Homo sapiens: one gene and its partners. The protein of the gene in region 4 purifies or fractionates together with the protein of the main gene of each other region. This does not show direct contact. Each region holds a gene or a part of one and is shown on either strand. Other genes may lie near its edges.

The links.
Region 1: the proteins of TBC1D25 (region 4) and CBY1 purify together in Homo sapiens (affinity purification with mass spectrometry, with the first as the bait; one large-scale study listed by BioGRID). This does not show direct contact.
Region 2: the proteins of TBC1D25 (region 4) and LIMA1 purify together in Homo sapiens (affinity purification with mass spectrometry, with the first as the bait; one large-scale study listed by BioGRID). This does not show direct contact.
Region 3: the proteins of TBC1D25 (region 4) and OMA1 purify together in Homo sapiens (affinity purification with mass spectrometry; one large-scale study listed by BioGRID and IntAct). This does not show direct contact.
Region 5: the proteins of TBC1D25 (region 4) and SIPA1L1 purify together in Homo sapiens (affinity purification with mass spectrometry, with the first as the bait; one large-scale study listed by BioGRID). This does not show direct contact.
Region 6: the proteins of TBC1D25 (region 4) and ZBTB21 purify together in Homo sapiens (affinity purification with mass spectrometry, with the first as the bait; one large-scale study listed by BioGRID). This does not show direct contact.
Region 7: the proteins of TBC1D25 (region 4) and CREB3L2 purify together in Homo sapiens (co-immunoprecipitation; one large-scale study listed by IntAct). This does not show direct contact.

The regions. Positions count from the first base shown.
Region 1 is NC_000022.11:38,663,138-38,666,637, reverse strand, and holds part of CBY1 (protein chibby homolog 1), read right to left. Parts: intron 1,093-3,500; exon of another isoform or gene 953-1,092; intron 1-952. UniProt on the Homo sapiens protein: Inhibits the Wnt/Wingless pathway by binding to CTNNB1/beta-catenin and inhibiting beta-catenin-mediated transcriptional activation through competition with TCF/LEF transcription factors.
Region 2 is NC_000012.12:50,273,521-50,277,020, reverse strand, and holds part of LIMA1 (LIM domain and actin-binding protein 1), read left to right. Parts: intron 1-3,500. UniProt on the Homo sapiens protein: Actin-binding protein involved in actin cytoskeleton regulation and dynamics. Increases the number and size of actin stress fibers and inhibits membrane ruffling. Inhibits actin filament depolymerization.
Region 3 is NC_000001.11:58,505,227-58,508,726, forward strand, and holds part of OMA1 (metalloendopeptidase OMA1, mitochondrial precursor), read right to left. Parts: intron 984-3,500; coding exon 834-983; intron 1-833. UniProt on the Homo sapiens protein: Metalloprotease that is part of the quality control system in the inner membrane of mitochondria. Activated in response to various mitochondrial stress, leading to the proteolytic cleavage of target proteins, such as OPA1, UQCC3 and DELE1.
Region 4 is NC_000023.11:48,559,912-48,563,109, reverse strand, and holds the end of TBC1D25 (TBC1 domain family member 25), read right to left. Parts: coding exon 2,135-3,198; 3' UTR 501-2,134; downstream 1-500. UniProt on the Homo sapiens protein: Acts as a GTPase-activating protein specific for RAB33B. Involved in the regulation of autophagosome maturation, the process in which autophagosomes fuse with endosomes and lysosomes.
Region 5 is NC_000014.9:71,669,976-71,673,475, reverse strand, and holds part of SIPA1L1 (signal-induced proliferation-associated 1-like protein 1), read right to left. Parts: intron 2,358-3,500; coding exon 1,784-2,357; intron 1,129-1,783; coding exon 854-1,128; intron 1-853.
Region 6 is NC_000021.9:41,989,861-41,993,360, forward strand, and holds part of ZBTB21 (zinc finger and BTB domain-containing protein 21), read right to left. Parts: coding exon 1,035-3,500; 3' UTR 1-1,034. UniProt on the Homo sapiens protein: Acts as a transcription repressor.
Region 7 is NC_000007.14:137,995,587-137,999,086, forward strand, and holds part of CREB3L2 (cyclic AMP-responsive element-binding protein 3-like protein 2), read right to left. Parts: intron 1-3,500. UniProt on the Homo sapiens protein: Transcription factor involved in unfolded protein response (UPR).

The DNA of each region.
Region 1 (3,500 bases), on a different chromosome or scaffold from region 4:
TTGTCACCAGTGTCACTTGTCAACAGTGCACCTCATATGTCACGTTACCTGTTCTGTTATGGAAGGTGACGTGAGGTGTCCTGAAAAGGGGGCAGGTCCACGACATGGCGGAGCTGACAACAACACCCCCCCAACCTGTACATTTGCTTTTAGCATAATGCAACCTATTGCAATTCACCTAGGCCTAGTTAAGTAGATTTCCTGATAACACCCTGGTTTTTGGGGAGAAAAGGAGGGGAGAAGCAAACTTTTTATTTAGGCTGGGAGCAGTGGCTCACACCTGTAATCCTAGCACTTTGGGAGGCCAGGGAGGGAGGATTACTTGAGCACAGGAGTTCAAGACCAGCCTGGGCAACTTAGCAGGGCCCGTCTCTACCAAAAAAAGGTTAAAAAAGAAAAAAAAATATATATATATATAACATTAATACAGAAAAGTCTACCACAAATCATAAGTGTAAGGTTTCATGAGTTTTTACTACACAAGTATAACCACCCTCCAGGGCCAGGCGTGGTGGTTTATACCTGAAATCCCAGCACTTTGGGAGGCCAAGGTGAGAGGATTGCTTGAGCCCAAGAGTTCAAGACCAGCCTGAGTGACACAGCGAGACCCCCATCTCTAAAAAAATTAAAATCAAGTATTTTTTAAATTTTATTTTTTATTTATGATTTTTTTTTTTGAGACAGAGCCCTGCTCTGTGCCTCAGCCTTGTAAATAGCTGGGATTACAGGTGTGTGCCACCATGCCCAGCTAATTTTTGTATTTTTAGTAGAGACAGGGTTTTACCATGTTGGCCAGGCTGGTCTCGAACTCCTGACCTCAAGTGACCTGCCCACCTTGGCCTCCCAAAGTGCTGGAATTACAGGTGTGAACCAACGCACTGGCTCAAAACATTTTTTTAAAACCACCCTCCAGATTGGGATACAGAGCATTTCAGCACTCCATAAGCCTCACCTGGCCACTGTACATGCACAGAATTGCACAGTGAGTCCTCGTTTGCATCTGGCTTCTCACACTCAACGTCATGTTTCTGACATTTATCCATGCAGCTGTGTGTAGTTATAGTTTGTTCATTTGCATTGCTGGATAATATTCTATTGTATAAACACAGCAAAATTTACTTGTCTACAGAAGATGGACATTTGAGCTGTTTGCAGTTTTGTTTTGTGTTTCTTGAGACAGGGTCTCGTTCTGGTCCCCCAGGTTGGAGTGCAGTGGTACCATCTCTGTTCACTGTAGCCTCAACCTCCCAGGCTCAGGTGATCCTCCCATCTCAGCCTCATGGGTAGCTGGGACTATAGGCACGCACCACCATGCTGGCTAATTTTCTGCATTTTTAATAGAGATGGGAGTTTCGTCATGTTGCCTAGTCTGGTCTTGAACTCTTGGGCTCACGTGATCTGCCTGCCTCAGCCTCCCAAAATGCTGGAATTACAGGTATGAACCACCACACCCGGCCTGTTTCCAGTTTTTGACCACCAAAAATAGTGCTGCTAGGCCAGGCATGGTGGCTTATGCCAGTAATCCTAGCACTTTGGGAGGCCAAGACAGGAGGATCACTTGATGCCAGGAGTTCAAGACCAGCCTAGGCAACATAATGAGACCTCATCTCTACAAAAAATTGAAAAATCAGCCAGGCGTGGTGGTGTACCCTTGTAGTCCTAGCTACTCAGGAGGCTGAGGTGGAAGGATTGCTTCAGCCCAGGAGTTTGAGGCTGCAGTGAGCTGTGATCACCACTGCACACTTCAGTCTGGGCAACAGAGCAAGACCCTGTCTCAAGAAAAAAAAAAACTACTGCTAAGAACATAAGACTTGAGCATGTATATCTACATGCATATGTACACTTTTCTGGTTCCATACTTAGGGGTATAACTATAGAGTCACAGAGCATTCATATATTTAGCTTTAACAGATTCTGCCAAATGGTTTTCCAAAGTCATTGTACCAATTTAGACTCCTATCTGTAGTTTGCAAGAGATCCTTGTCAATATCTGGCACTTTCTTTTTCATCTTTTCCATTCTGGCAGGTATGTAATGGTGTTGCATTGTTTAATTTGCTTTTCCCAAATAACTAATTAAGTTGAGCATCATTTAACATACTCCTTGGACATATATGGATTTTTTTGTGGCATGCTTATTCATGTATTTTGCTTTTTTTTTTTTTTTTTGAGATGGAGTCTCCCTCTGTCATCGGGCTGGAGTGCAGTGGCACAATCTCAGCTCACTGCAACCTCTGCCTCCCAGGTTCAAGTGATTCTCCTGCCTCAGCCTCCCGAGTAACTGGGATTACAGGAACACACCACCATGCCCAGCTAATTTTTGTATTTTTAATAGAGACAGGGTTTCGCTATGCTGGCCAGGCTTGTCTCGAACTCCTGACCTCAAGCAATCTGCCCGCCACAGCCTCCCAAAGTGCTAGGATTATAGGCATGAGCCACCGCGCCCAGCCCTCTTTTGCCATTTTTTAAAATTGAGCTGTCTATCATGTTCATTTTGTAAGGGTTTGTAAGGGTATTTATATACGCTGGATACAAGTTTCACTACTGTATATATGTACAGTACTGAAAATATCTTCTCCCACTTTTTTCTTTTTGCTTTCTCCTTCTTTTTTTTTTTTGAAACACAGTCTCGCTCTGTCACCCAGGCTGGAGTGCAGTGGTGCTATCTTGGCTCACTGCAACCTCTGCCTCCCAGGTTCAAGAGATTCTCCTGTCTCAACCTCCCAAGTAGCTGGGATTACACACACCTGCCACTAAACCCAGCTAATTTTTGTGTTTTTAGTAGAGATGGGGTTTTGCCATGTTGGCCAGGCTGGTCTCGAACTCCTGACCTCAAGTGATCCACCCACCTCCGCCTCCTAAAGTGCTGGAATTACAGTCATGAGCCACTGCGCCCGACCTCTTTTTGCTTTCTTTTTTTTTCCTTTTTTTTTTTTTTTTTTGGAGACAGAGTTTCGCTCTTGTGGCCCAGGCTGAAGTGCAATGGCGCCATCTCAGCACACCGCAACCTCCACCTCCCGGGTTCAAGTGATTCTCCTGCCTCAGCTTCCCAAGTAGCTGAGATTACAGGCATGCGCCACCACGCCCGGCTAATTTTTGTATTTTTAGTAGAGACAGGGTTTCTCTATGTTGGTCAGGCTGGTCTCGAACTCCCAACCTCAGGTGATCCACCCACCTCAGCCTCCCAAAGTGCTGGGATTACAGGTGTGGGCCACCGCGTCCGGCCTCTTTTTGCTTTCTTAATGCAACCTCCGCCTCCCGGGTTCAAGCGATTCTCCTGCTTCAGCCTCCCAGGTAGCTAGGACTATAGGCACGCACCACCACATCCAGCTAATTTGTGTATTTTTAGTAGAGACGGGGTTTCACCATGTTGGCCAGGATGGTCTCAATCTCTTGACCTCGTGATCCACCTGCCTCGGCCTCCCAAAGTGCTGAGATTACAGGTGTGAGCCACAGCTCCCAGCCAGAAGTTCTTAATTATAATGAAATCCAATTATTTATT
Region 2 (3,500 bases), on a different chromosome or scaffold from region 4:
ATACAGAACCATTCTTAGTGTTTTTCTTTGAGATTGGTATAAACTCTTCTAAGAATATTAATTTTTTGTCCTGTGGTCAAATATTTAACCAGTTTGCCTTTTAATTTTGTATATAGTATATTATTACTTATCTATAGATTTTTTTTTTTTTGAGACAGTGTGTCACTCAGTCACCCAGGCTGGAGTGCAGTGGCACAATCTCGGCTCACTCTAGCCTCCTCCTCCAGGGTTCAAGTGATTCTCATGCCTCAGCCTCCCAAGTAGCTGGGATTACAGGCACATGCCACCACGCCTAGCTAATTTTTGTATTTTTAGTAGAGACAGGGTTTCTCCATATTGGCCAGGCTGGTCTTGAACTCCTGACCCAGGTAATCTGCCCGCCTCGGCCTTCCAAAGTGTTACAATTACAGGCGTGAGCCACCACACCCAGCCTGGATTTTTAAATTTGAGATTTCTTCTGGTGCTGTGATGTTTAGAAGGCCTTCACCATCCAGAGATTGGTTAAATACTCACTTTCATTTCCTTCTGATTTTTACCGTTTTACACTTTATATTTAATTCTTTAATTTGTATTGAACTTACTTTGAAGTACCAAACCAATATGTTTAATGCCTTTGTATATCTGAGTTCCAGATCTGTATTTCCAGCTACCTGTTAGGCTATGTGGATAGTCCCTGTACGCCATGCATCTGCGTACACCCAGATTCACTAAGGAGAAAGCTTGAGGTTGTACTTACCACTTTAATACTTTTCTCCACCCACATTTGATCAATCCCCAAGTTTGGCTGATTCTGCCCCAGGGGTGATAAGAGTTCTTTAATCAGTCTTCTAATTCAGATTCCCCTTTTAGTTTTTTGCCAGAGTCCTTGAGTCCTTGAGTAATCCTTAGAGTTGGCTTCAGTTTTTCCCTTGCAGAAAAGTTATCAGAGTTGTCATAAAAAAAAAAAGCACTGATTTTCAAAATATGGTTCCTTTAATTGCCTGTGTTAGAATTACCTGGCAGTGGTTAAAAAGGTAGAGTCTCAGGTCCCACCTAGACCTGCAGATCAGTGTGTCTGAGGGATGGGCCTGGGAACCTGAAGTTTATCAAGTACCTCAAGAGATTTATATACAAACTTAAGGGGAGACAATGCCTAAGTAAATTCAGTCTAGCTTTCTGACATGCTCTTCAAGACACCCACACCCCCACTCTGACAGCCTATTCTTTTAGGCTTATCTCCCACAACACGACCCACCCACCTGGCACTGTGACCCTACAATAATTCTCTGTTTCCTGGACCTGCCCAGTTCTTTCCTGCCTCTGTGCCTTTGCTCATGCAGTTACCACAGCCTCATGCTCCTCCCCTTCCCCACCCTCTTGTTGAAATCCTTTTCCTTAAGAGCCCAAATCAAATGCTACCTTTTTAAATTTTTTTAATAAAAAAAAGCCTTTTCTAATTTCTTCTACTTGAATCAGTGGCTGCCTCCCCAGTCTTTATACTTAACACTTGATTTTTGCTTCATTTCTTACCTTACTTAATGTTGTCACTATTTATAAATTATTGCTTCCTTGTAAGATTACAAGCCTTTTAGGTATGAGAACCTTTCCCTTCCTTTTCATTTTGTGGCCATTATGCACATATAAACAATTAAGAACTCATTTTATTTTATTATTTTGAGACACAGTTTCATTCTGTCCCAGGTTGGAGTGCAATGGCGCAATCTCAGCTCACTGCAACCCCCACCTCCTGGGTTCAGGTGATTCTCATGCCTCAGACCTCCGGAGTAGCTGGGACTACAGGCACGCGCCACCACGCCTGGCTAATTTTGTTTTTTTTTTGTATTATTAGTAGAGACAGGGTTTCACCATGTTGGCCAGGCTGGTCTAGAACTCCTGGCCTCAAGTGATCTGCCCACCTCAGCTTCCCAAAGTGCTGGGATTATAGGCATGAGCCACCGCACCTGGCCAAAGTACTCATTTAGTACATGAAATATATCTGATCTTGCAAACACACTTTTATATAATAATGTTTGGCTTTGTATCACACATAGAATAAAATTAAAATCCTTTAGCATTGTTATTAATCCGTATTTAATCTGACTACTACTCATCTCTGTGTCATCGCATGCTTCTCACTTACTTCCTAGCTGTATTATTCCTTCCTCAGGGCCTTTGCATTTGCTTTCCTCTACCTGGAAAACTCCCCCATCTATTGTCTTCACCTTGCTGGCTGCATATGTTCTCCCCATCATTCAGGTTTCAGTTCAAATGTCATTCACTCAATGAGGCCTTCCCTGATCACTGCCTAAAGAAGCTGTTCGTGTCCCTGTTCCTACCACAACTCCAGTTACTCTTTTTGTATTTCCTTCACACCACTAATCACAGTCTTTAATTGTCCGGCTTCTCCAGTGGAATGGAAATTTCATGAGAGTAGAGACCATGTCTGTCTTTTTTTTTTTTGAGATGGAGCCTCACTCTGTCACCCAGGGTGGAGTGGAATGGCACGATCTTGACTCACTGCAACCTCCAACTCCCAGGTTCAAGAGTCTCCTGCTTCAGCCTCCCAAGTAGCTGGGACTCCAGGCACCTGCCACCACACCCAGCTAAATTTTTTATTTTTGGTAGCGACAGGATTTCACCATGTTGGCCAGGATGGTCTGCATCTCTCGACCTCATTATCCGCCTGCCTTGGCCTCTCAAAGTGCTGGGATTACAGGCGTGAGCCATCGCGCTCGGCCTTGTCTGTCATTTTTAACATTATATCTTCAGCACTTGGAATACTGCCAAAGACTTGGTAAATGCTAAATAAATATTTGTTGAATGAATGAATAAGCCTTGAAGATGGACTTTTCATTTGGACAAGTCTTGTTTTGTTTTGCAATCCAAAGTGTTGTATTTTTTTTAACTGGACAACAGCTGAGGTCGGTCCATCTGGGTTCAAATCAGGTAGCAGTCTCTGAGGAGTTCGGAAGGTAGCAGGACAAAAGTTTGGATACTGTGACAACCAGGATTAAGTTCCATCTGAGTGCAAGTTTTCTAAGGTGTTTCCAGGATCCAGGCCACTATTTTCCTACCACTATAGCCATCTACTTCCCAGATTGTTACTCTGGATTATACTAGTCTATCAACTCCTATTACATTTTCAAAAGCCAGTGTGGCAAAACTAAAACCCAATTACTGGAATCCACAAACAACCAGAAGTTTTCTTCTGTTTTCATTCTCTAGGAGAAAAATTAGAAAGCTATCTAGAATCTTCAAGAAAAAATGAAATGATTTTCATTATACTTACTATTAACACATGCTCTGAAATGTGTTACTGTTTAGACACACTGTTTAGACAGTGTACTGATTAGAAAGATTTTCAGCAACAGCTTTAAACAAAAGGTTTCTTATTAACATCTAGTTGAACCAGACATTATAATGAATTAGTTCTAATTTCTATTTCTTTTCATTGGTTAGTCTTTTTTAATTCCATTTTTTTTCTTAATGCTGGCTTGAAGTTTTATTTAAAATAATGCTTT
Region 3 (3,500 bases), on a different chromosome or scaffold from region 4:
CAGGCATGAGAAAGATACTTCTATAATACACCTGGATCTGTTGTGCTATGCCTTAGCACATGGCCCAGTACCAATTCTTAAATTGCTAAAAAATGTTCCGCTTTCATAACAAGCCACCAAATTTAATACAAGTGAGATAGAAGAGAGCGTGTAACGTGGCTCAGAGATGCCTAACATCCATTTTGTCCTGATATGGAAACCATAAAAACATTCTGAATGATGTCAACAAATCAAAAGATTTTCAGAGGATACTGAAAACTACTTGGCAGAAAGCCGCCTCAGCTTGACCCACTTATGAATTCTACAGAAAGAAAAGCCAGAGAGCAAATGCTTCACTCTTATCTTCATAAAGAAATAAATAACCAGAAACAAACATGAAGATTTTTTTTCCTAAAAAAACAAATTCCAGTACCACTACTACAATTAATATCCACTTGACCCAAAACTTCTGTACAACTCATTAACTGGTATTTTTAACAAAAAGCTTAAATCACCAAGGAAAGATTAAATTATCATCAACATGTTTAAAAAACTTAATATGCCTTGAGTTTTAAACTTTCATCAAGTCAGTTAAAATTAAAGTCTCATACTAAAGGAGTTAAACCTTCACTATTAAGAAAAGTCAACTGTACATAGTAATTTATTCTCCAAGACTTGTGGACAAGCAGAATTTTGCTTTTCAGTCAAATTCTGTGACAACTGATAATCCATAATTATAGTAATCAAAATAGTTAATAGGCTAGAACTCTCTTTTACTAAGCAAAAGAAGTGACAGCATTAAAAATAAATGATACAGTAAAAATAATGTCCCGCCTTCTACGGTGTCAGCTCACCTGAGGTATAAGTCTATCCAAGTACTCAACTCGATTGCCATGAGAAGGGTGTGTAGATAACCATTCTGGCATCTTGGGTTGGCCATGCAGGCTATCAACGAACTCCATTTGCTGCCAAAACACTGAACTGGCTCTTATGTCTGCACAAGCCTAAAACCAAAATTAGTAAAACCACACAATGAGCTCAGTTTTGAGGATTTTTTAAAAACTACTACTTTATTTTTTTTTAATTCTATTATAATTATACTTTAAGTTTTAGGGTACATGTGCACAACGTGCAGGTTTGTTACATACGTATACATGTGCCATGTTGGTGTGCTGTACCCATTAACTCGTCATTTAGCATTAGTTATATCTCCTAACAACTTTATGTCACTACATGCTTTAAAGTCATTTTCTATCATCACTTTAATAAAAGTAGAACATGCCCATTGCTTAGAAAAAGACCCACCTCAAACAACATGGTATCACAGTACTGAAATAACAGAATGCCTGCCCTTCCCATATACAACATTCACAATAACCCTGCTAACCAAAGATAGCCCACTATTTTCAGTATGATGGATATTAAGAACATGTATTAAGGGTAAAATCTTTTACACAAATTAAAAATTCTGTTTTCATAAAGTTTTAAAATATAATGTTATTAAACTGTATTAAAGAAACTTTACTTCTATGCCACTAGAACAATCAGAAAAAAACTTCAAATAAACATAAAGAGATGACATGTTTATTATGCACATCAATTTACCCAATTTTCTCAATGTATATGGACAATATATTTAATTCATATACCTTATAAAACACAATACCTTATAAAAGTACAATATAAAAGTACATTAGTACTTTTTAAAAGAATATATGTAGATCTTGTGTATGTACAATTCCATCATACACTCATATACATACTCATACGTATATACTTGTATATGCACAGAACATATCTGAGAAGCTATTTAAGAAGCTGTTAACTACCCTAAGAATGTACCTGAGGTATCTGATAGTGGAGAGGGAGCAACACTTTTATTTCTGAACTATATTAAAATACATTATTTTATAATTAAAATTATTTTTAAATCCTCCATAAGGTGGATTATTAACAAATATTTTATTAATTTGTTCAATTTATTCACATTTCTTAACTTATTCTTTCTATAATAAGTAACTGGAAAACAAGTGGTTATATTTCCCAATGATTTTATTTTTGATTAAAACTAAGAAAAAATATATATACTATACTGACTAAAATGTACTCTCAAAAAGATTTATAATAGTGTAATTGTGAAACCCCAAAAGGCAAATATATTAATAGAACACTGCATGCTAGTCAACAACCATGCTACATCATTTCTTAACAAATACCATTAAAGCATTTCCAAATGTTAGCAAAATAAAAAATTTTAAATTCAAGTAAATCTTATTCAATATTTAAAGAAATATAATTCCTTAAGACCTCTGAGTATTCTAAGTTGAAAAGAATTCAAGGTACTTTATACACTACTGCACAGATATGGATATACATGTTTATATGTATATAAACAGGAATATACAAGATAAATGTATATAACAAACATAAATATTATTCATGTTTATACACATATAAATACATATCTATATATGCAAGATGTGTGTGTGCTTATGTGTAAAATATGTATGTAACATATGTATCTATAAAGAAATAATTATTTGATGCTGAATTAGAAACACCCAGAGGACTATGCCCCTCAATAATAGGTAATCACATTCACAATAAAAATACAGGCTGAGATTAACAAGTATTCTTCTCAAATAATTCATAAAAATATAAAATGACTTGAAAGAATTCTAACACAAACAAAAAACCCCTCTGAAAACTGGAAGATAAACATTTGAATGGACTACAAATTCACGAATTATCTAACATGAAGTTTGTCTGCTACACAAACCAAAGGCATACTTATCTAATTTTTTTAGCCTAAAACTGTTAATCAAAAGACAAAATATTTCCCTATTCAATCTCTAAGTAACACAGCTGAAGGGAATCTTTAAAGCAATATTTGATATGCAGAAATAGAAAAAGAAATTAATTATCCCTACAGACTAGAAAGTATTCCAAGCTAAAAGTATTAAAAGGGGACTTGAGATATCTACTTTAATGTTAAGATAAGAGTGTTGAGTTTGTCTGTACTTCTCAAACCCAGTTCAAAGAGCCACTAAAGTCAGATAATTTTGTTTCCAAAATGAGTATTTTATTTACATTTTTCCAATTTAGGAAAAATAAGTAACAGGTTGACATCAGCAAGATGGAAGAATAGGACGCCCTAAACCCTCCTTCCCCACATGAACACACTGATTCAACGATAATATACGAATTCCCTTTGTGAGAAATCCTGAAACTAGGTGCAATGCTTCTGCACCTGCACAAGTACGAAATGAACAACATCAAACCTGGTAGAAGACTGGAGACACCCTCTTGCCATAATCTGCGAGAGCAATTATGTACCCCCAATACAGCACCATATGATCATAAGAACACCTGCAGCTCCCCACCACTCCTTGGGGAAGGAAAAACTTGGCTTGTGTATCTAACATTCCAACTTTTCTAAGAGCTGCCCTAGGAACTGGCTTCTGTCTTGCCAGCCTTGTAGCACTGATGGAATCTAAAACGCCCTAGATATCTAGGGGCCA
Region 4 (3,198 bases):
GATCCTAGTCCCCCAGACATGTGTACCAGTGGTTTGGATGATTAATGCAATGAAGGGGGCAAACAAGGACCTCCCCAAGGCAATATAGGGGAGAGGTGAGAGCCAGAACTTAAATATCTTTTTCCCTAACCTATCCTCTATTTACTGCCTCTGGCCATCCGCCCGTCAAAACACACACCAGTTAAAGACAGCCTTCCATTTCCCCATGGGTCTCTCATTGCTATGTTGCAATTTCTGGAACCCATGTTTCCCTCTCTAGTTTCTCCAGAGTTGGTTTCGGGCAAAGGAATCAGTAGCTTGTGCTGTCTGCCATCTTTGCAGGAACCAGAAACCCCAAGTATCCTAGAGGAATATTAGAGGTTTCTGCCTTTCAGGGTATCTGAGCCTCCTATTCACAGAAAGGACTCTTCTATCTCTCAGAGGTCCCAAACTACTATCCACAGAATTGGCTTGTCTGGTCCTTCAAACACCTGAGCTCATAAATCACAGAATGCATCCCAGAGGGTATTAGCTGTTTACTGACAAAAGAGACATTTCAGGACCTCAGAAGGCCAGACACTCCCATAGGTTGGATGGCCCTTTGGGGAGTCTGAGCCCATTTCCACAAAATGCATTCGTTAGACCCACACACAGTGCTTGAGCCCCCTAGACACAGAATAGTCTTGTCCTGTTCTTCAAGTGACTGGGCTATCATCTGAGGAATAGTCAGCTTCCCCCCAATACTGGGGGTGACGGGAGACTTTTAAGGGTCATCCCCAGGTTTGTATGGCATTCTTGGGGCAAACAGCAGAAGGGATGACTGCCCTGATGCCTCCTCATCTCTGGCAGCATTGCCTAGTGCAACAGCTCTGGCCAGAACCCAGCCTGGTCTACAGCCATACCATCCTGAACATGCCAGATCTTGTCTGACCTCTGAAGCTAAGCAGGGTCAAGCCTGGTTAGTACTTGGGAGAAGCTGGTGTGGCTAGACCGTGACCTGAGGACCCCAGTTATTTCACCCATCCTTTGTGGATGACAGCACCTGGCCTGTGAGAGAATCCCACCCTCTGAGCATGTCAGTGGGAAAAAGGACCTTTTTTTGATCATTATCCTCCAAATAACGAAGTGAATTCTATTAGGGCCTGCGTTTTATCAGTGCTTGTTGTTTGTCCATATTAGTGAGATGGAGAAGGTAAATAAGTGGTTTCTACTGCTGAAATGGTTAAGACAGGTGCTGTGAGCTGGAATCCCAGTTTAGGGCCGCTAGGCATGGGCTAGGCCAGTCTTTCAAACTGGCTCCAAAGCAAGTGACAAGAATAGGAGCCCTAGATCCTTTTGTAATTCAACAATGTGATGATTGGGCTTTCACACTTGTGTGAGATGCACCTCGCTCAAACCTTGTTAACATCTGCACGGTACCTGTCTGAAGTGGAAAACAAAAAGGAGGCCGAGGCCCCTGCCCAGGGCTGCCAGCATTGGTGCATAAACCTCACAGAGAGGCCAAGATCCTAGAAATGGTGACATGTGGAATGCCAGGGGTGGCTGCTCCAACGTTTCTAAGTAGCCCATACTTCCCAATCTCAGTAAAGAATCTTGTCCTTTTTTGAGCCAGGAACTCTCTTATCTCTCATCCAGGGGGCTGTCCTGAAAACATATATTCACAGCCATAATACAGACCCTTACAGGCCGATGGATGTACCAAAAAAACAGACTCAGGCCTTCCTCAAGCAGTGCTCCACCTGGGCTCACCTTTGGGAACTGATTGTCAGCATCCACTCTCCCCATCACAAGGGGGAAGCTGGAGCCTCTCTCCACCAAGTGAAGTATTTCCCCTCCATCAGGTAAAGGGCCCCTGAGGACTCCATCTACAGCAAAACCCAGGGAGGAGGCAGAGAAACACACAAACCACAGTGACCTTCATGTGTGCAAAGTATAGTTGTTAAAAACAAAACAACAGAAACAGAATAAATAGGCGTGGCCTCTGCGGGGCAGTGCCAAAGCAGAGCTCCACATACTTAGGCCTGGGGAGGAAGGGCTCTATGCTCCAACAAGTCTAGGGCTGGCAGGCAGGGAGGGAGGTGGGGTCTCATGTGTTGGCCCTCATGGCAAAGAATGGAGATCTGGTGGGGCCGATGGAGGGCTTGAGAAAGCCTGATCAAGATGCGGCTGTGGCCTCAGCCCCCTCCTCTGAGTCCCACACCTCTGACTGCAGGTAATCAGCAAAGAGAGCCCTAGCCCGGCGCAGGACGCGCCCCAGGTGGTGTTTTCGCACAAGGCGGTCAAAGTGCATGGCCAGCTCATTATAATCCAGCCCATTGCGCATGATGTGGTCGCGGTGCTCCAGCAGGATGGCCAGGCAGAGGAACAGCATGAATGGGTTCCCCCGGCCAAACTCCTGGGGTGGGGGCAGGCCCATTGGTGGTACAGGTGGCAGGGACTTTCCAGGGTCTTTCGGGGAGCCTACCTCTTGCATCAAGGGGGATCCTACAGCCATATCACCAGTGGGAGAGGCCTCCTGGGTGGATGGTGGAGATGAGGAAGATGGGGAATCAGGGTGGGAAAAGGAGGAGAGCAGTGGGTCTGGGGAGTTCAATAAAGGCTCAGAGAGGGACTTGGAGCTGATAAGGGCAGCTGGGTGGGGCAGCTGGACCAGAGGGTCCCTCCTGGAGCCCATGTTATCCCTGAGTTGCTGGAGGCCATCCAAGCTGGCCTGTCTCAGGAGACGCCCCCCACCACCAGGCCCCTGACTGGCTGTGGCCAGGTGGTCAACAGCATCTTCAAAGGTACTACCTCCTCCACCAGCAGGCCTCAGCATGTGCCTCTGTCGCACGGGCCACCCCCTGTGGCCACCAAAACCAGCGTCTGCCACTTGGCTGGGGGGTCCAACCAGCTCTACCTCATGTTCAGGAGGATCAGGGGGCAGCGAACTCCAAGTGACCTCAAGCATGCGGAGGGCATCGTCGAAGGCGAACTCACGCTTGAGTTCCAGCAGCAGCCAGCGGTAACAGAAGAAGAGGTCATCAGCGCCTGCCTCTTGCAGGTATTGATAAAAGTCAGGGTCAGCGTGTCGCAGCAACAGCTTCAAGTGTGCAAACTTGGTGGCCATGGCGCGGCCGTCAGGGTGGAAGTTGGCGGCCAGGCGTTTCATGATGCCACAAAAGCAAACAAAGGCATGGCCCTCATGGTCCATGACAGCGAGGATGGGTGAGGCAAGGTCAC
Region 5 (3,500 bases), on a different chromosome or scaffold from region 4:
CTTAGTGGCAAAATAGGACACAGAACACTGTCTTGGCTTTAGAAAGCCTAAGAATCAATTGCCAAAGCTTAAGAGAAATTCTTAGAAAATAATGGCATAAACTAAAAAGAGAGATCTTAAAAACTAGCAAAAATAGCATGTGCATGTCCAAAGGAGAAAATAAACAGTTGATTAAATTTCTTCCACCAATAAACCTCCCCAGAGACAGAGAAATTAAATTTTCAACAGTGCTGCTGGCTTGGCAGGAGCTGTGGGGGGTTGGGTGGGGCAGGGAGCTCTTAGGTTTTCCCTTCTGGAAAAGACTAGGAACCAAAATGCCAAAGCACCATGAGCAGGGGCAGCTCACCTGAAGCCAAACCCTAGCACATGCAGATACAGTTAGGAAAGCAGCTGCCAGACTGAGACAGCAAAGGTCCAAACAATTGCTGAGTTTTGGGCAGCAATTAGGAGAGAGAAGAGAATAAGAGCATCATGGAACATAGAAGAAAAGCAATCTGACAATTTGAGATGTTGAGTGTCTTTTAATGTTCAATGTGTTCAATGTTTCTCAGCTCCCAGTGGAAAATTCTTAAGATAGATATTACCAGACTTCTCTATCTGTCATGGCAACTTTATAAATCCAGTGATGTAAATCCTGGGAATGGTCCCATTTAGTCACTCTTTCCAGCTGCTGTCACCACACACTGAAAGGGAGCTTCGTCCTGAGTCAGACTCCATGGATGAAACATTCAGCATCACATGTAACCTATTGTTCTTCACAACACCCTACTCCACTACCTGCTAAGAGATGTTCTACATGGTACACAAACCCTGCACTCGAGTCTCAGGCCCACAGCTGTCTCCTCAGACCTACCTCCGCGGGGTGCAGTCATCATGCGGGGGAATGATGACAACCTTCACCGTGACAGATGTTCTCAGGAGGTCGATCATCTGCTCATGGCTCAGAGTGGCTACCGCCACCTTGCAGATCTCCACCAGGCGACTGCCCTGCCTCAGCCCTGCCTGCCAGGCATAACCGTAGGGCTCCACATCCGCCACAATGCCCTCATAGTTGACATGGAAGCCAAGCTGTCCTAGCCCATTTCTTCGCAGAGTCATCTCCACCGATTCACAGCCTTTTGAAACAAACTAGACAAGGAAATAAAAGATACTGTGGTTTAAAGCAATAGGGTATTAAGTGGTGGACATGGAACTGGAAAATCATTGCAAGCAGGGTTAGTTCTGAATACCTTATTGCCAGCTGAAGAGCAGTCTGGTTATTTCCTCTTCACTAATCTCCTATTCATTAGGCCAAAAGGAATATACTTGTTGCATCCAAAAAGCTCAACGGCTTCCCTGAAGTTACAAGGAAACCTCTACCAGAGACCTACAGGGAGCTGGCAGTAAATAGAAACCATATACTGCTACTCATTTAGCCTTTGTAAAATTCAAGGCAGCAGATACTCAAGCAATTCTTTTCAACACCACCACCAGATGACTGGACTGCAGCACCAGGGAACAGGTCACATGCAAATGGGTTTTGAACATGAACGCACACACACACACACACACACACACACACACACACACACACAGAGTAAATGTGTCTTCCCCAATTTGTTCTACTTTTCCGAAACATCCATGGAAAACACAAGCATGAGATAAACTCTGTTTGCTTCACACATCAAGGGAGTTTTCAGAGGAGCTAATAACAGAGCACAAGGTTCAGTAACTTGGCTCTAGTCTGTATTGAAAACTTTATGAAAGAGAAACTGCATGTAAGGAAGAGGAAGGAGAGACTCACCTGCAACCTTTTGACAATCTCTTTGATCTCCTCAATGTTAATAAAACTACCCACTGAAACACATTCTCCTCGTTCATAGAAGATTTTGAGGCTGGTGTCAGTTGAAGTCCACCCTATCACATCTCTACAGGAACAATTGAAGACCACGCTCTTTGTTTCCTGTTCAATGAGCACAATGAACTCATTGGAGATCCCTAAAAGGCAGTCTAGTTCCATGGCCTTGTTGTAGTCTTCAGCCCGGACTGCCCATACAATGGCCCCCATGCTGCTGAGCTCGGCTCCTGGATATGGCTTAGACTTTTCCTTCTTCTTGGAAGCCAGAGAGATGAACGGAAACTTGCCAGAAGGGTCGATAGGGGTGTTGGTGACATTCTTTTCTGCCAGATCTTTCAGGTATTCCTGGCGGGTCCGAGTTGCCATGGCCCGAAACTTCTCCGATTTATGAGCAGCATTTTCTGCATTAATCACTTTCGCCAAAAGGAAGTCCCTGAACACATTTGACTTAGGGAAAGTGACCCCTTTAGGAATGGGAGGCCCAAAGGAAGGCACATCTCTGGACCTGGTAACAGCCACACTGAGAGACAAAGATCAAAGAGAGCCACGTCAGTATTTCTCAGTCTCACAACATCAGAATAAAATATACTTTCTCAAAGACAAAGATGTACCTCAGATACAAAATAGCTGCTTATTTTTCCATGAGAAACAACACACATTTCTGCTTAATACGAGTATATTTTTTCATTCTACCGCATTTAGGATTTACACAACATAATTTTTTTTCTAGGCCAAAAACAAACCTCCCAAAATCCCAAAAGCTAACACTATTAACTTTTTTTTTACCAGACAGGAAACTGACCAAAACTCCATGAAAAAAAATAGGTTTACTGTAATATTCTGTGTAAGACATTTTAAATACCTACTAACTGTTTTCAAGGGAGGTTACTGTAACCACATCATCTTTCAGAACAAGCATACATTCTGTGAGAACACAAATGTGTTCTCCATTTTAGATATGATGGCTATAAGCAGACAGCTTACATTGAAAATATCAGAAGATGCATGCCATAAAAGAAATGAATTAAATTTCAATAAAACTTAACTAGTATTTGTTGGCCTAAGTGTGAGGCATTATGCAACCAGATTAAAAGCATAATTTTAAAATGAAAATTGGAATCTGAGTAATAGTATGAGAATCTTTATGTAATAGCAACAACGCTTTAAAATCATATTTTTAAACTGAGCTATTCCTTGGTCCTTTTGGTATTTTATTCTGATAATCTATTTCTAAGAAAAATATTTTCCTTCTCCCATTCCTTTAAGCAAGATTGATATAAGAAAGCCTGTTCCAGTCATTTCTTCTGACTATATATTCCTAAAATTGGGCCTAAGAAAAGGATCATATGAACATTTGTAATAACTTATTATTTTTAACCTCAAAAGGAAAAAAAGTAAGTTTCTCCTAAAACAACAAAGGAAGTTGTTGATATAGAAATAGAGAGGTTGAGTGTTTTATATCATTTCCCAAGATTTTAGTAAAGTTTGACATGACTGGAAATGATTCTAACACATCGAAGATCGCTCTTTCCAAATTAAAAGTGAACAAATTATGCAATTATACTTAGTATTAGGGAAACAATAAAAAAATCGGTTTCTTCTGAACTCTTGGAATAGAAATGGCATCATCAGAGAGTATGCATCTTTCAAATAAAATTGAAGA
Region 6 (3,500 bases), on a different chromosome or scaffold from region 4:
ATCTGGAAGTAAATGGTAATTTAGAATTTTACATCAGCTGTGCTAATTCTTGAGTGTCTGGGATCTATGTAAATATATGTCCCGACCTTATTTGTTACACTAATGTTAAAATCAAAATTAGTGCCATATGGTTAGCTTTGTTTTTTGTCCTAACTACACTCAGATTTTCAATTTGTGACAGCATAAATCAGAGGAAATGAAATATGTGCAGTCCTTCAAATGCTGGTCTGAATTTAGACTGTGGTGCAGTGTACATGTAACATGGTACAAGTTTTTATAACAATGTCTATCACTACTGAAGCCCTTATAAACTGACTGTAGGGGACTTCCATAAATTGTTTTCATTTCCCAGGTCTTCCTTAGAGTTTAACTATCATTTATTATATTGACTGAGAGCAAGTTTTTGTTAGTTTATAAAAATCTAAGTGTTACTATTGCTGATTTAAATTTCTCACAATTTTCATACAAAAAGAAGTTTTACATGACCACAAAATACCAAATATTTATTTTTATCAAGTGTCAGGATAACTTATTAAAGTTGAGATTTATCTTTTATTGCTAAAGTAGTCTAAGATATAAATCAATACTGCAAACTACTCCACTTCTTCCTATTTTGGACTTAAGAACATGGTTAAGATTTAACTAGAACTCAAGTGTCTAAAATAATTAAAAGAAGGAATACTTCGACAGTATTCCACTAATCAATAAAAAACCAAAAACCTCAATTAAATGATTATACTGACACCATGGAATGAGGAACCATGCACACAATCAAGACTAATCCAATTTCAACATTAATGAAATCAAACCATCTTGTTCTTGTAAGGTCCAGAACCACAATATTTTAAAAGCTGTATTTCTAAAGTTAAGGACATTACTAAGTAATTATCAATTTGCCTCCAACTTAATTTCAAGCGTAACAATCTCCAACCTTTATTATTCTTGTTTAAAAAATATTTTGTTTCTTATGACACATTTCACAATTCAGGTTGAAATCTGGGGACTGCCTCCCATAGGTAAAAAGTGTTGGTCTTTCAATTGTGTGTTTGTTCGTGACTCCAAAGACTAAATGCAGTCTTGAATGTCCTGTGGCAAAGTTTACACATAAACTGTCTTTTAAATGTGATTGCTGAAAGGGGTGGGGCATGGTAAAAAAGGGTGTCTGATTCTTGGGGCACAAACAGTTTTTCTGTGGCTGGAGTTGGGTTTTCGGACAGGCCTGTGGGGCTGTCAGGCTCCAGAGGCTGGATCTTGGGCAGTGGTGGTGGCGGTGGCAGAGGTGGTGGAGAGGGAGAGTTTGTGGGAACAGGGCACACCTCAGATTCCTTATGTGCCGATTCCTCTGAAGCCTGAGACATGTGCGATTGGAAGTGACTCCAGAGTCGAAAATTAGTGCGAAAAGCTTTGTTGCACACGTGACAAATAAATGGTTTCACAGAGCACAGAAGCTCCTGGTGACGCTCCAGCTGCTTATGCACCGTGAACATCTTCCCACACTTCTCGCAGGGCCACAGGCTGGCTTCTTTGCTAGGACCCGCTTCTTTGGGGGCTGTGCTGGCCTCGGGTGCCTCTTCTTCAGCCTCCTCCACAGGCTCCTCTTTGACTTGGATTTTCAGTTGCTTGGAAAGACTAAGGTCTTCGGGAAGACAAGAGGAATCTTCCGAGTCGAAGTTAACTTGTTCTGAAGAATCACTGAACACGTTGTCGTCTTTTGTGGTGACGATGTGGTTTACTTTGTTGGGCTCAGGCTGGGATTGGGGCCTTGAAGAACCAGTCACATCACCATTGTGGTCCAAAACGGGCAAAGAAAAGTTTTCGGTGGGTGCCATGTTGTTCTGATTATGGACTTCAACCTGGTGCCGCCAGATGCTGAAAGAGGACTTGAAGGTGCGCATGCACTCGAGGCAGGTCAGCTTCTTATACTCACACTTGCTCTCGTGTTCTTGCTTCAGCTCGGGCGAGAAAAACCTGAGGCTGCAGTAAGGGCAGACGGCCGCGTTCCGGCACAGCCGCTCGTGGCTTCCTTGCTCTAGGAGAGAAGAGAGCTTAGCATTACAGAGGCGGCACTGGTAAACCTCCTTGTTTTCTACTGGACTTGCAAGAGGAGCATGCTCTTTTGGTTTAGCAACTTTATTTACTCCAAGGGGTTTTTCTCCTGGATGCATTTTTATATGCTGCTTAAATTGAGAGAGAAAGCGGTACGCTTTTCCGCAGTAAGTACAAATGTAAGCTCCTTTGGCTCGAGATCTCAAGTTCCTCTTGATGACTTGCTGTGCTTGGGAGCTACTCTGTCCCTGAAAACCAGGCTTGCCGCGCCTTAACTTAATGATCAGGGCCTTCTTAATTTCTCTCTCTCTCACTATGTCAATCAGCTTTCTTTGGAATTTTTCATCCAAAACAGCATGTGAACTAGAGGCTGGTGATGGGTTCTTCACTATGCCGTGTTGGGTCTGACAGTGTGTCCACACTTTGAAGTTGGTGTGAAACCTCTTGTGACAGATGTCACAAGCGTAGGGCTTTTCTGGGTTATGGTACATGTTAACATGACGGTGAAGACCTGCTGTTGATCTAAAGATCTTAAGGCAATGTTTGCATTTAAATTTTTTGTTTGGTCTCGTCCCCTCCAACTCACCAAATTCGTCTTTATTCAAATCAGAATCTGGAAAATCTGCATCAAGGAGAGTAGGGCTTGAGCCTTCCTCAAAATTATCTTCTGACACAGGAGACCCGTGCTCATTCACCTTTAACTTCTTAAACGGCAATCTTCGGTCCGCTTGGAACCTCCTTTTTGCTGGGAGTCTGCTCATGTCTTTTTGGTCATCTTCTGTTTTCAGAGACAGGTCTCTTGTGACCGACGAAGATGAGGCAGCTGCTGTTGTTGCCGCATCTCCCACAGTGACGCGGATGATGTCCGAGGGGTCCGACAGCGGGCTGCTGGGCTCAGTCTTTATGCGCACCTCAGTCACAGGGGAAGCTCCCTCCCTGTCTGTTGACTGAGAAGCACTAAAGGACCTGAGGCGATGCGGTTGTAGCACTTGAGGCCTGTCATCTAGGGCTGTTTTTTCACTACAATCTTTTAAAGATGACTTCTGAGATAAAGCACACAACACATTCCCTGGTGCATCACTGGACACCGAAGATGATCCCTGGGAAGATTTCAAATCTATGGAAGGTGAATAGACAGGAACCTGGCTATCCATCGACAATGACCGTCTGAGGAGACTCTTAACAAGTGGGCCACTCCTGTCAATGCTTTGGTTTCCAGAACCAGATCCACTGGATGGGATCACTAAGCCTAACTTTGAATAGTACAACAAGTTTCTATCTTCACCTTGACCATTTCCTTTGTTAGTTTCTTTTAATAGATAGGGAGTCTCTGATGAGCTACAAACAGACAAAACAGGTGGCCGTGGTCTCTTCAAAGCCAGCTCTAGAGCTTTTCCTTTTGGAAGCTGACCACTCACACCTGGTTTATCATCCATAGCTTCTCTGTCTTGCAG
Region 7 (3,500 bases), on a different chromosome or scaffold from region 4:
CCCCCCAAAGTGCTGGGATTACAGGCGTCAGCCACCGCGCCCGGCCAGGGGCTCTATTTCACAACCTCTTGCAACATGAGATAATTTACTTACTGTATGAGCCGATCTGAATCCATTTTCAGTTACTTCTAGCTGCAAGCACTGTAATTAATTCAATTATTAATCTAGATGCTATATCTTATAACTCCTGCAAAAGCAATGTCACATCAGAGACCCCTGTTTCCCATGAACACTGTAACTCAGGGATCATTCGAGAAGGAGGGCAAATATAAAACTCTGTACTGCCCTCTCATCTTTCAGGACTGTGCCTATGTCTACCACCTCCCAACCAATGTTACTATCATGAGAACAATTTCAGAGACAGTAAAATAATCCGTCAAAGATTTTTTGCTAAGCCAAGGGAAATCCTCTAGATCATAGACAAATTAGCAACACATAAACAAGGCTGCCTTATGAATAAGAGCCACATTATGAAATAATGGAGGGCAGTGAGGGTTCCTCTCCCATTCCCCAAATATTCGCCCACTACTACCTGGCTATCGCCCTAGGTTCTCCAAGTGGAGATTCACCCTTTTGACCTGAAGTAATTATTGTTAAATATAAATGCCCATTTAGGGTTAACATGTTAAATCTTACTAACACTAAAATTTCTAGTGAAAGCTTATCAAATCTTTCCTGACAGCAAAATTTGAAGGGATGAAATTGGAAAGAGAACATTACAGTGAACACTTGATGTCTAAGAAAGGAGGGGAACACAAAAGGGGCGAGAATGTTGAAAGGTGCCACAAGGGTCTGGAAAAATTATACTTACTTCCCAATTCTGTCTCCCGTTAGAACTCACTACATTTATTCAGCTTGTGGAGGTCATGTGACCATAAGTAATAACATTCTCAGCCAATGAGGACCCGGGTGCCCCTTCAGAACCTGGCCTGGGGCCAACCCTAGGAGTTAACTCCAAAGTGGAACATCAAACCAAAAGCTTCAATATCGCATTGAAATCATATCACTCTCCGGGCCAGGCGGGAGGAACAGGAAACCACACAGTCTGTGAGATCAGCCAACTCCTTTTCAGCACTCAGTAAGACATGGAAGCCAGATGGCCTTTCCATCTGGACACCAGGCAGGTCGAATATTCCCCCAACTCCCTACCTACCACTGTCTGGGACCAGTGGTTTCACTTGAAGAACCAACCAGATATAAAACTGTATTAGCATAACCACCAAATGATTTTACAAATAACTTGGCTTTATAGGAATTCTGCATTTTAAACAAGCAGAACTTCTGTTGTTACTTTCACAAAGACTTAGTTTTTATGATACACTTTTTTAAAAGGATATAATCATGGCGAAAATTGCAAAAATTGTTTTATTTTCCAGATGGCTAAACTGAGATAGAAGAAAGGAGAACATTATCAAGATCTTGATGTTTATCATGGGCAAACCACCTGCCAACCTCTCCCCCTAAAGCCTCTTTCCATGGGGCCTTCCCACTTCCCCTGTTCTTCATCCAACGCCTCCACTGACCTTGAGTGGTGTTGAGTTTCTATATAGTACTGAAGCTCCCTTTTTCCCCCAAGAACACTTGGTTGAAAATTACCTCTAGTCCAGTTTTACATGGTGCCTACAAGTTGTATTTCTTCCATTTTCTAGACATAGTGACGAGGTAAAAATCTGAATAGTACCAACAGGTATAGTGTGTAGACATGCTTCCCTTCATCTCTTGACTTCCACTTCCCCAAGCTGCTTTCCCAAAAATTATCCACTTCTTGAGCATCCTTCCAGATACAGTTTATACATATATAAAATACATTTTAAAATTTATAGATTATTTTGCTCTTTAAATTGCAAAAGGGGGCTGAGCACAGTGGCTCACACCTGTAATCCCAGCACTTTGGGAGGCCAAGGCAAGAGGGTCCCTTAAACCCAGGAGTTGGAGACCAGCCTGGGCAACATACTGAGATCCCGTTTCTACCAAAAAAAAAGAAGAAAAAAATTAGCCAGGCATGGTGGCACACACTGATACTCCCAGCTACTCTGGAGGCTGAGGTGGGAGGATCACTTGAGCCTGGAAGGTTAAGCCTGCAGTGAGCCATGATTGAGCAACTGCACTCTAGTCTGGGTGTCAGAACAAGACCCATCTCAAAAATAAAATAAAATAAAATAAAATAAAATAGAAATTACAAAAGCACAGACAATTCCCAGAAAGTAATTTTCAGAGAATTTTATAGGAATACAATACAAATGGCAGAAATGTCCAACATACAGGCAGGTCTGGGGAAAGAGGCAAGGTTTCTTCTCACGGTGGTACCGAACCCCAAGAGATATTCTCCTGATTTCTAGATTTGCCATCTTTTCTGAACCAATTTTAGCCTGTATTCCATCTTGAAGCAACAGCTTTCCTAAAATCAGTACTCACTGAATTAAAATAACATTTCATCATCTGTATGGAAACAATTTTTTAAGCTTCAAGAGGAAGCCCAGAGCTTTAGCAATTCAGGATCTAATGATCAGTCCATCTTTGCCCTATCCATATGCTTCATTATTTTGTAGACTCTGAACCTGTCTGCCTTTGTCCTTGTAGACCAAGATGTCTTCATAACTAACCAAATGAAAAAAAACATTGCTCCTAACGGTTAACAGAAGGCTCCTGAGAAACATCATAATCTCAGCCTTGGGTAACTTGAACATTCTAAATTGTTTAAATCAAGTATGTGACAGGTTTGCTAAAACAGAGCATTAGCAATCATGCATGTAGTAACTAAATCCCTAGTAAGAGCAACAAAAGTGATCTCACTAGGAAGGTTTGGTGGCTGCCACTGTCAGCCTCATTTAAACATTAGCTGCTTTCAGGCTCAGCAGTTCCTATATTCCAATCACTCTCTCCCAACCTCTTATTCAGTTCCTTCTCTTTAAGTCAGGATTCTTCACTCAGACAGCCTGATAGGCAAGTACTTGCAGGCAGGCAAACATGGGTTTGAATCCTGGTTCTATCACTAAATAGCTGTGGGAACTGAGCCAAGTGGCTTAAACTCACGAAGCCTCATTTTTCTTATATGTAAAATAAAAGTAATAAAAATGGCTCATTTCACTGGGTCATTACAAGGGTTAAATGGCATAATATTTGTAAAGCACTAGACACAATGTCTTTCAGCAGGACCAGCTACGTAATTTGTGAAACCCAGTGCAAAATGAAAATGTAAGGTCCCCAGTTCAAAAAGAATTAAGATTTTCAAGATGGTGACAGCACAGCATCAAACCAAGTGTGGACCCCGTGGCACTGCATGGGTGGCAGGCCATGTGGTCAGCCCTGCCTTTCGGATGATAAACACTCAATAGATGGTAGCTGTCATCATCTCTTACCACCCTCACAACTCGTATTTGAACCTCACCCTCCCCTCAGGCTCTCTTCAACTTGGAAAGTTTTATGAAATCATTCCAAAAACAGGCACTGGTGTCTCAGAAGCACCCAGAGTTTATAAGACAAATAACTCACCAAAATGA